2 linked regions of the Homo sapiens genome follow. The protein of the gene in region 2 interacts with the protein of the main gene of each other region in a biochemical or structural test. Each region holds a gene or a part of one and is shown on either strand. Other genes may lie near its edges.

Evidence for each region. The genes of interacting proteins can lie anywhere in the genome.
Region 1: the proteins of OTUD5 (region 2) and TRIM33 form a complex in vitro, tested with the Homo sapiens proteins (one study listed by BioGRID).

Annotation. Positions count from the first base shown.
Region 1 is NC_000001.11:114,392,280-114,396,228, forward strand, and holds the end of TRIM33 (E3 ubiquitin-protein ligase TRIM33), read right to left. Parts: 3' UTR 511-3,949; downstream 1-510. UniProt on the Homo sapiens protein: Acts as an E3 ubiquitin-protein ligase. Promotes SMAD4 ubiquitination, nuclear exclusion and degradation via the ubiquitin proteasome pathway. According to PubMed:16751102, does not promote a decrease in the level of endogenous SMAD4.
Region 2 is NC_000023.11:48,940,597-48,947,631, forward strand, and holds part of OTUD5 (OTU domain-containing protein 5), read right to left. Parts: intron 3,688-7,035; coding exon 3,594-3,687; intron 1-3,593. UniProt on the Homo sapiens protein: Deubiquitinating enzyme that functions as a negative regulator of the innate immune system. Has peptidase activity towards 'Lys-48'- and 'Lys-63'-linked polyubiquitin chains. Can also cleave 'Lys-11'-linked ubiquitin chains (in vitro).

The sequences.
Region 1 (3,949 bases), on a different chromosome or scaffold from region 2:
CAAGGACTCCTTGTTGGCCTCAGCGTAATTCCCAAACCCTTTAATATAACTTACAAGACTCTCTGCTTGAAGAGGACTCTGCTCAATTTTTGAGTGTAGTATTTTACCACTCCAACTTACACTGTTTCAGATTAACTTTCAGTTAATTAACTTTTCAGTTCCTGGAATACATACATGTTCTCTCTCACTCAGTCTTCTACATGTTGTATTCTCTTTTCACTCTCTCTTTTCCTTGTCCACTGTCCTTTTATGAGTGAAAGAAATTGCTTTCCTGGCAACAAAGTTTGGGTTAGATCCTTTCCTACGCATTACAATTATATTCTGTTAATCCCTATCATAACATTGATTACTCTAACACAGAGTCTAAAGTCTGTGAAGGCAACGACTATATCTTCTTGTTCACTACTGTATCTTTGGTGCCTGGCACACAGTGTAAATTTTTAAAATGATTTAAAACTATGATTAAGTTTCAACTCACAGAAGAAGAAAAAAAGAAATTCATTTGAAAACTTTTTCAATTTTCTAATTTAATAGAAATAACCAAAACAATGTGGCTTTCAAACAAGGGTTTAAAACTAATCTAATACAACTTCTACAACACATTCCAGAGCATTATAACAAGAATTATTTACAGGCAGCTAATGTATTAAATAACCATGAAAAGAAAAAACTTGCTTTTATTACACACCAGCAAAAACACAGGAACGAAACAATTAGAAACTGCAACCTTGTTTTAAAAAATTAAATATGATTATTTAGAGAATACGATACCACAGAAACAGCACTTTTTAAGAATCATATTGAAGGGCAGTTAACTATGTGCAAAAATAATAGTACTAGTAGTAATAATAATAATGAGGGGAGGAGACCAATTGAAATACTGGAAGCAAGGAACTAGTAAGGCTGTGAATTTAACCCTTTCGTGTGTAGGTATGTCTACATAAAAAATTAACAGGCTTTCAAATTGCACAAATCTTTTTTTATAGGCTTATGTATATGTTTCACTGTGTTTTAAAATGTAGTAGATGCCTACATTTTTCAGAACAAGGAGCAGACATGCATTCCATCCTTAAGATTGAAATTTAGGCCACACTTGAAAGGGAATATTGCAGTGGCACTTACAAAATCATTTTGGTGCCTTCCCACACATAAATTTGGTGAATTTAAAAGAGGAGCATTTTTAATTTTAAAGATCACTTTCTAGAAAAGGGCTAAACTTAACTTTGTACACTTTGTAGTTTGATATGACAAATATATCCAAATTAACTTATTTTTGAAGATAGTTTTGTTTCTTCGATACAATAAAAAATATATAAAGGACCACATAGGCAAACACAAGGAACTAAGATGAAAGAAATGCTATACATGCATTTTGACCAAGTAAAAGAAACCATTATATTCAAGAGTACGTGTTGAATCTGAAATGTCTATGTAAACTGTGGCATATAAATTTTTTTCCTTAAAAAAGTACCTTCAATTTTTTTACTCAAACACTTACTTTTAAAAAAATATGCAACTTTCCCCAATTTTTAAAATAAAATGCCACAATATAGTGTCATTACTTCCAGCATACATTTAAATTTCTTAATTTTTAAAAGATAGACTGGGTGATATGCATACAAACTTTCCTATAAAATCACCATCCAGGAGAGGATTCTGACATGCTATTAGGCAACAGACTCAAAGCAGTGTTATTGCTTTATCAAGGAGGAGATTAACTGTGAGGGAAAAAAAATTAAATATCCAGGTCCGGTACATGATCAAACTGTATTACACCTTGAAAATCTTGAGTCACCTTCAGCAGATCATTAACATAGATGGTACAGAAATTAAGAATTCATGGTATGAATTAAGAATCTGTTTTAACTAAGGGAGTTGGGTGCGTGGATTTTTTATAAAACTACTCACTGATCCGATGCTGAGTATGCAAATAAGCAGTGCTGATTTTGACAAGAAATGAGATTTTTATATTTCACATGTTGTACATGAATGGGGGTGGATATGGGACGTAAAAGCCAAGGGAGACGGGGCCACAGCATCTACTCCCATTTTGGATAGTAAGAGACCATTTAATAACATACAGTAGGCCACAATCCAAGGGCATAGTTGGAAGACCTGAATCTATTATCTTATTAACACTAATCACTAATAATTACATGGCAGGATACCTGCTGAGGTAATTGATAAATCTACAATTTGCACACTTATAAACCTTTTACTTCTATTTAAAAGCATTATTTATTTCAATTAACTAAAAATTCCAAAACTTATCACAAAAAATGAGACAACTGACTTAGCATTACCTAAAATTCCCTTATGTTAAGATACAGAAGTCAGAAAGTACCAACTTGTTGATCCAAAAATAATAATTTCAATAGTGGATCCAATGCCTTATCATTTCTCTGTAGTAATGGTTTGATGTTTCCATATAGAGCACGACCTACAATCTAACCATACTTTAGAACTTTCACATGCTTTGCCTCATAAAGCAATTCCTTCACTCAGTGAATTGGCTGAGCCAAGTGCTGAAAACACAAATTTAGGTCAGCGGAACAGACTGAGCAACACTTTGTTCTTAGTTTTCTGATGGAAGAAGTAAATTGAAGTACAGCAAAAACTTTAAAAGCTTTTAAGAAAACATTATTATGTGGACTTTTCTCCAAATCTTCTAAAATACTGCCATTTAAAAAACAAATACAAATGTGAGAGAGTATAAAAACAAACTGCCTTCAGGGACTGACAGATACAATTTTGTCTTTTTAAAACATAAACTAATAGGAAAACATATATCTAAATATCAATTTAAGTTTTTATACTTTTTAACCATAGGTATATTAGAGCTGAAAAAATCAGCTTAGAAACACAACGATCAGTGTGCAAGAAAAAAGCTTTAATAAAAAATCTAAAGTGAATACCTTAATTTAATGGTGGTATGTTGATAGCTATTAATAGTAATTCCTCAGCAGTATACATTATCTTAACAGAAGTGGAGGCTATTAAATGTTGACAAAAAAGTGGCTTTTAAATTGCTTTAACCAATCTTAAAACCAAAAAAACCTAAAAACTCTATCTAACATGTAATTTTAAGGAAACACAATTATTTTTTAAGGCCCCAAATACTGAAAAATATTTACTTAAAATGTTTCTCCCCTCAGTTGGCAGAATCTATTTATGACTCATTATCTACAATTTTTTTAAAAGGATCCATTTGAAGAGCAATACAAAATATTAGAACTCAAAGGCCTGACAAAATGAAGTTATACTGCTGCTATTCCTCACTTTCCAAAAATGTGCCCTTAGATATATGTCTACTTACAAACTGAAATCATGGATTTTGTGAAAAAAGAGGGAAATTGGCATAGGCATAAGTATTTTTAAATAATTTTCTCCCTCTTATTAAAAAACATTTTTAGGAATTTAAAATTTGAGTAAAATGTTTCAACAGTTTGGTATATTTTCAACGGCTTAAATTATTTTTTAAAAATTGAAAGAAAAGTGAAAAGGAAGCCAGGAATAAAGTAAATCAATAGTAATAATAAAATCAATACTCTTTAAATACACAACCAGAAAGCCTGAATCATATTCCTGTTTACCCCCACCCCTTGTTAAGAAAAGAAAAACAACCCAAAGGAATTTGTATAATAATTTCTTTAGAGCACTTTATTTGATTCAATATGCATTAAAAAATATTGACCTCTTAGACAATTACGTGAAATAATTTTCTGAGTAGTCTACTCTCTGAACTGCTTAAATGAATTTTTAAAAAGGCAAATAAATGATTTGCCACAAATCTGCTGACTTCTGAAAAATATCTAACAGCAAATTCTTCTATTTTGGTCTCTGAATATTCTAATGTGTCCATACAAAAGTAGGACTAAAATCTTTAATCAAACAAAAGAGAAGCCTGTAACAGTGTAGAACACACATTTTGAATCTGAGCATCACAAAT
Region 2 (7,035 bases):
TGGCCTTCACTCTGCCCACAGAAGCTAGCACCAGGACCCTGGTCAGGGTTAGAGGTTTCTGCTGAGTCAAAGCCACATGGAGGGAGGGAGCAAGGGAGAGATGCAGAGTCATGTTTCCAGGAGGAGGTTATCTGAGCATAACAGGGACAGGGTGGGCCACAGGATACCTCTGAGGCTCAGGTTCCCACCTCCACTCCACCCAAGCCTTCAATGATGCTCATGAATCCCCAATAAGAGGAGGTGGGAGAGAACTGAGCGCAAGCAATGGATATTGCTTAACTCAGGGGAACCAATGGCAGGCAGGCAGCTACCTGGGGAGTAGGCAATTCTCAGAAGTCTCTAAAGCAAATGGTAGGACCCTATAGGAAGATAATCCAGGGGAACAGAAGGCAGAAAGCCACCTGCCTCAAGACTCCCAACAACAGAGGGCCACGTGCTCCTACTTGGAGGAGGTAAGGTCCAGAGAAGTCAAGGAACACAGCCAAGGTCATCCAGCCAGTTGACAACCAAGCTAAGAAGCTAAGGATCCTAGGATCATAAAAAGAATGTGTCCTGGCCGGATGCGGTGGCTCATGCCTATAATCCCAACACTTTGGGAGGCCAAAGCGGGTGGATCACAAAGTCAGGAGTTTGAGACCAGCCTGACCAACATGGTGAAACCCCATCTCTGCTAAAAACACAAAAATTAACCAGGTGTGGTGGTGCACGCCTGTAATCCTAGCTACTCAGGAGGCTGAGGCAGAAGAATCACTTGAACCCGGGAGGCAGAGGTTGCAGTGAGCCGAGATCACGCCACTGCACATTCCAGCCTGGGCGACAGAGGGAGACTCCATCTCAAAAAAAAAAAAAAAAAAAAAAAAAAAAAAAAAAAAAAGAATGCGTGTCCTTTGGACACCTCTGGGTTCCCAGGCCAGCTCTGGCTAATGGCCCTGAGCATGTCATTTCCCTTTCTATGCTTCAATCTTTTCACCTGTCTCATGGGATAATGATCCAAGTTTTGCAGTGAGCCTGAAGCACCCAGCTGAATGCCTAGCACACAGCAGGGGTCAAGGAAACAGTGCCCTCTATGTTTGCAGCCCCCGCCCAACTCCAACTCTCTGCTCCACGTTCCTTCCACTATTCAACACATGGCAGGAAGTCAGCCTGTAGGGCTTCACACTACAGTCTAAGCTGACTGCCATCTGTCCCCATCCAGGCGAGGCTGGAAACGGGGGCAGCAAAAAGCCCAGGGACAAAGTCCCCTTCCCAGGCACATGTATTATGCACTCTGCACCAAGGAAACCTCCAGATAAGGTCTAGAGACCAAGGGCCATGTACTTCGGGGGAGAGGCCAGAGGACTTCTGAGGTTTTACAGAGAAAAGCCAAAGGCAGCCCAGTCAGGGGAAATGTGTAGCCATAGTGCCGATAAGGAAAGGCCTTCAACCTGCCCTGGTCAGCTCTTCCTGTAAGTAGAGGCCCCTTACTGAAGGCCCCAGTGGGAGGAAGGGTCGGGAGTATTTGGGGAGAACAGCTAGATACATATAGACACACACACACACACAAATACTGCTCTTGATACGAGTTACTACAACAAGCCAGGTCCTCACTAGCTAGCCCCAAGGGTCGGGGGTATTTGGGGAGAACAGCTAGCTAGATACACACACACATACACACACACACACACACACACACACACACACACACAGAGAACAGCTAGCTAGATACACACACACACACACACACACACACACACACACACACGGCTCTTGATATGAGTTACTACACAAGCCAGGTCCTCACTAGCCAGTCCCAAGGCTTACCCTCAATGACTGCCCAAGACTCAGATGCCCGCTGCATTCTCTAATCCTAACTCCACCAGAAGCCCTGCTTACCCCACATCTAGCCTGAGGTCTCAACACAGGGCCTAGCACCTAACAGGCCCCCACCTATTCTTTCTTTGCCTTTCTTTTGTCCAAGATGCCCCGAAACCCAGCTCTTCCTCTGGGAAACATCCCAGGGAAAACACAAACTTGAGCCAGAGGGGTAGGAGGGATAAGTTTTTTCCCAGTCCAATAGAGCCCATTGCCTGAGCCTCTTCTGCTTGGCAGAATAGAGAGGAGACCATTCACTCCACCCTTTCAACAAACACATGTGACTCTGAGGCACCAGTGAAAATGGCATCTGGGTTTTACAAATGCTACTGTTCCATGAGGGTCTACTATATGTGTCAGGCACTAAAGGGATTTACCAAAGCAACTTCATTAAATCGTTACAGCATTAGGGTCTTTTAGCCCCATTTTACAGATGAGGAAACAGCCTCAGGAAAGAAGAGCTGCTTGCCTAAGGTCATACCAAGAATCAGTTGTGCAGCCAGGGATGGAGCCTAAAACACCCCAGCCCACCAGTAGACATGGGGGGTACCCACAGACGGAGAGAATAGCAGACCAAGAAGGAACTCAAAGAGGCATTGAGAATCAACACCATTTCACAGACGGGAAGACCAAGGCCAAGTGTCACAGCAGTTATGAGTCAGGGCCAGAACTAGAAGGTAGGTCTTCTGACTCCCAGCTCAAAGCTCCTATCAGAGGGCACTTTTCCTTGGTAGATATCAGAGAACCACAGGGAGGATCAGGTCACATTCCCAGCTTCCCCTTCACCCTAGCACAGGACCTCACAACTACTTGTTGGGTCACAGATTCAGAGCCAAAATGGCCTCAAAGATCTAACTCAGACTGGATAACAGATGGTATTAAGGCATTATTAATTCTGTTAGGTGCAGTAATGGCATTTTGATTATGTTAAAAAGAAGAGAGTAAGTCTGTATCTGTCAGAGAAACATACAGAAATATTTATGAATGAAATGATCCAATGTCGGGGTTTTGCTTTAAAAATACTCTTCTTTCAGGGGAGTGAGAAAGAGTGGGCGGGATAGTGATGAAACAAGGCTGGCCACGTATTGACTATTTTGAAGCTGGATGATGGGTACATGAGGGTTCATCATTCTCTCTACTTTTATATAAGTTGAAAAAAAATTCTATGATATAAGAAATTTGTAAAGATCTAGTCTGATAGCCCCCATACACACAGATTGAGGAACAGAGACCCGCAACACACCAGAGATGGGATCTGGGTATAAACCTAGGGGTCATACAGCCCAGGGTGGCAGCAGTATGCTATGGTTAAGAGCATGGGCCTCAGACTAATCTAACCCAGACACTGAATCCCAACTCTACCACTTATTATTTCACTCCAGACAAGTCACCCACCATCTCTGAGCCACTTTTCTCATCTGACAAATGGAAGCAACAGTAGTCCCTACACTCACCTAGCTTAGAGGGGAATCAAAGAGGTTTCCTGTAGCACCTGACAATGTGTCCCAAAGGATATTATTTTCTTTATCATTCTTCTTGCTGTTATTATGCATATTAATCTTGCACCACTACAATGTCTCAAGACCCACGGCTAGAGGTCAGATACCAACTTGAGGCTGGAGCCTAGAGTCCCTAAAAGATTAGCTAGCTCTGCCTCAACCCTGTCTCAGGGGCTATTCCTGATAACTGGGACACAGCTTAGGGGCAGCCCTAGGCCCTTAAGGACTAAGGCAGAGACTCACCTACAGCCCGGAAGAGACAGGCGCCATCCTCCTTCATCTGCTTGATGATGAAGCCCTTCTTGTCTCGTAGGGCCTTTTCAAACCAATGCTCCTGCTGGAGGGAAGAGGTGGGGGTCAGCAACAGGGAAAACCTGTACTCCCTCCCCAGGGCCCCGACCTCAAGCTCCCGAGAGGCCTAGATCATTGACAGAGAGGACGCTGGCCAAGGTAAAGTTCTCAGCCCTGTTTGACCACTCCATGCATGTGAAGTAGGAGACTCTTTTAGGGAATTAGTTGCTGAGTGAAACTAAGACTTACTTCCAAAAGGGTCCTAGGTGCCCTGAGAACAGTGGCCCCATATGCCTTATGGCTTCTGTTGACCTTGCAGGGCCTGGCCCAGGGAGCCACACTGCCTCAGGCAGCCAGAGACTCAGACCCAGCAAGTGCCTGGGTGGAGAATGTGGCTCTACCTCAAGGAGTTTCATCTAGGAAAGGTGGTGAAGAGGGGGTAACTAGCAAGAGCCTAGATCCTGAACCTGACAAAGGGCTAGAGGATTCCAAGATATGCTGTAGGCCGGGCATGGTGGCTCACACCTGTAATCCCAGCACTTTGGGAGGCCAAGGTGGGTGGATCACCTGAGGTCGGGAGTTCGAGACCAGCCTGACCAACATGGAGAAACCCCGTCTCTAATAAAAATACAAAAGTAGTCAGGCGTGGTGGTGCATGCCTGTAATCCCAGCTACATGGGAGGCTTAGGCAGGAGAATCGTTCGAACCCAGGAGGTAAGAGGTTGCGGTGAGCTAAGATCACCCCATTGCGTTCCAGCCTGGGCAACAAGAGCGAAACTCTGTCTCAAAAAAAAAAAAAAGAGATATACTCTAGAAGGCAAAAGTGTGCAAACAATGTTCTCATCTGTGACTGAACACATTTAACAGATATCTACACATATATACATATGTATGTATACAAACACACGTACACAAAATTGGGAAGGCTAGACAGCAAAATATCCCTAAGTCCTGGTGTTATCAGCGATTTTATTGCACTTTCCCTTTTATAAAGTTACACTAAACCCAAAAAGCTTTGAAAATCAAGTCTTTTTTTTTTTTTTTTTTTTTTGAGATGCAGTCTCACTCTTTTGCCCAGGCCGGAGTGCAGTGGCACTATCTCGGCTCACTGCAAGCTCTGCCTCCCGGGTTCATGCCATTCTCCTGCCTCAGCCTCCCGACTAGCTGGGACTACAGGCGCCTGCCACCATGCCTGGCTAATTTTTTGTATTTTTAGTAGAGACGGGGTTTCACCATGTTAGCCAGGATGGTCTCGATCTCCTGATCTCGTGATCCACCCACCTCGGCCTCCCAAAGTGCTGGGATTACAGACATGAGCCACTGTGCCCGGCCCAAAAGTCTTTATCTAATTCATTTGGCATCATAACCTGACCAGAACTGACAAGAATCTATTTATCCCACTTGGGGTAAATATTCAAATATTTCAATGCAGAAAACATTCAGGTGTTTGATTATGAGGTGCTGCCTCAGACCCTGCTGGAGGTGTTATGTAACACAAAGTATACACACCAGGTAAGTTTTATAAATTGTTTTTTTCCTAAATTCCAAAGCACACCTGGCACCACGAAGGTTCAACTTAAATGAACCTGTACAAATGCCTATTTTTTAATTAAAAAAATAATGACCATATAACCTCTTAAAACATAATTTTCATTTCAAAACAAAACCAACCAGAAGCAGCAGACCTTTCCTGGGCCCCTCACGCCCTCTGCTGGCTACCAGAAGCAGCCAGCCTGACCTAGCAACAAGGCTGCAAACTACAGGATCCCAAGCCTGCTCCTTGTGGACACAGGCCTGCCCAGGGATTTATAGGATCTGGGGTATTAGAGACCAGACATAGGGGCCCACCTATCCGTAAGGCCATTTTTCCCCAGCTCAAGCAAGGGGTGGAACCCATCCCCTAAGAAAGCCAGAGGAGAAGCATCTCTGGCAAAGTTGTAAGCACAAGGTTTGGAACGCAAGAGCTCTGGGTTCCAACCCCAGCTTTGCCACACACTTGCTGTCTGTTATCACTCTCAGTTTCCTATAGAATGGGGGATATGTTGATCTACCGGACAGAGCTGTGAGGAGTTTCAGGACCTAAAGAAGCTTTGTAAATAACGTACCATATACTAGGGGAAGTTGTCGCCAATCACAGAAGGGGAGGAGATCAGCACAGAGATTATGCACAACTGAGAGACCCTCAGAAAGTCCCAGGTGAGTAGCGGGACAGGAGGGGAGGAAGAGGTGACAAGGGAATACCCAGCCAGTCCCATCATCAGGGCCCACACCCCAGGAAAATGTGGCTGGATTTCTAGAGATGACAAAGACACCTGGAAGCCCTTAATGAGCTTCCATGCGCAGCACAAGGACTCCTGTTTGTGCACAACATTCCAGTGGTCCAGGTGTCCCTCCTTGCCCCCAAGCCTGTGGATTAACACACTCCAGCCAGTTATGCCCAAGTCCATCCTGGCCACACATGGTCAGCCATCTCCCAGAGTCATGGGCCTGCCCCAGCCAGGGGTCTCCAGCAGGGATGGTGCAACCACAACTATAGTCCCAAACCTGACACAAGAATAGGTTCTTAAAAAGAAGGGAACACAGCGACTTCCTGGCTTTGGAGAGAGGGGAAAAAGAGAGGAGAAAAGGAGATCAAACAGGAGAGGGGCTCCTACTTATCCATTCAAGAAAGACTTACCAGGTAGCTACTAAGTAAGATACTGGGCTGGGCAGTGAGGACAGTGAAATGAATCAGACTTAGTCTCCACTCTTGATAAGCTCACAAACTACTTAGCAGAGGGGTAGGGAAACAGGTAACCACCACAAGGTATGAACAAGGCTGTGAAAAATGTAAATGCCAGGTGTTGTGAAACAGAAAGAGGCTGGGCGAAGTGGCTCTCGCCTGTAATCCCAGCACTTTGGGAGGCCGAGGCAGGTGGATCACTTGAGATCAAGAGTTCAAGACCAGCCTGGCCAACATGGTAAAACCTTGTTTCTACTAAAAAATACAAAAAAAAATTAACTGGGCATGGTGGTGCATGCCTGTAATCCCAGCTAAATCAGGAGGCTGAGGGAGAAGAATCGCTTGAACCTGGGAGACAGAAGTTGCAGTGAGCCGGGATCATACCACTGTATTCTAGCCTAGGCGACAGAGTGAGACTCTGTCTCAAAAAAAAGAAGAAAAGAAAAGAAACACAGTCATTGGGCCAGGCACGGTGGTTCACACCTGTAATCCCAGAACTTTGGGAGGCTGAGGTGGGCGGATCACCTGAGGTCGGGAGTTTGAGACCAGCCTGACCAACATGGAGAAACCCCGTCTCTACTGAAAAATACAAAATTAGCCAGGTGTGGTGGTGCATGCCTGTAATCCCAGCTACTCGGGAGGCTGAGGCAGGAGAATCGCTTGAACCCGGGA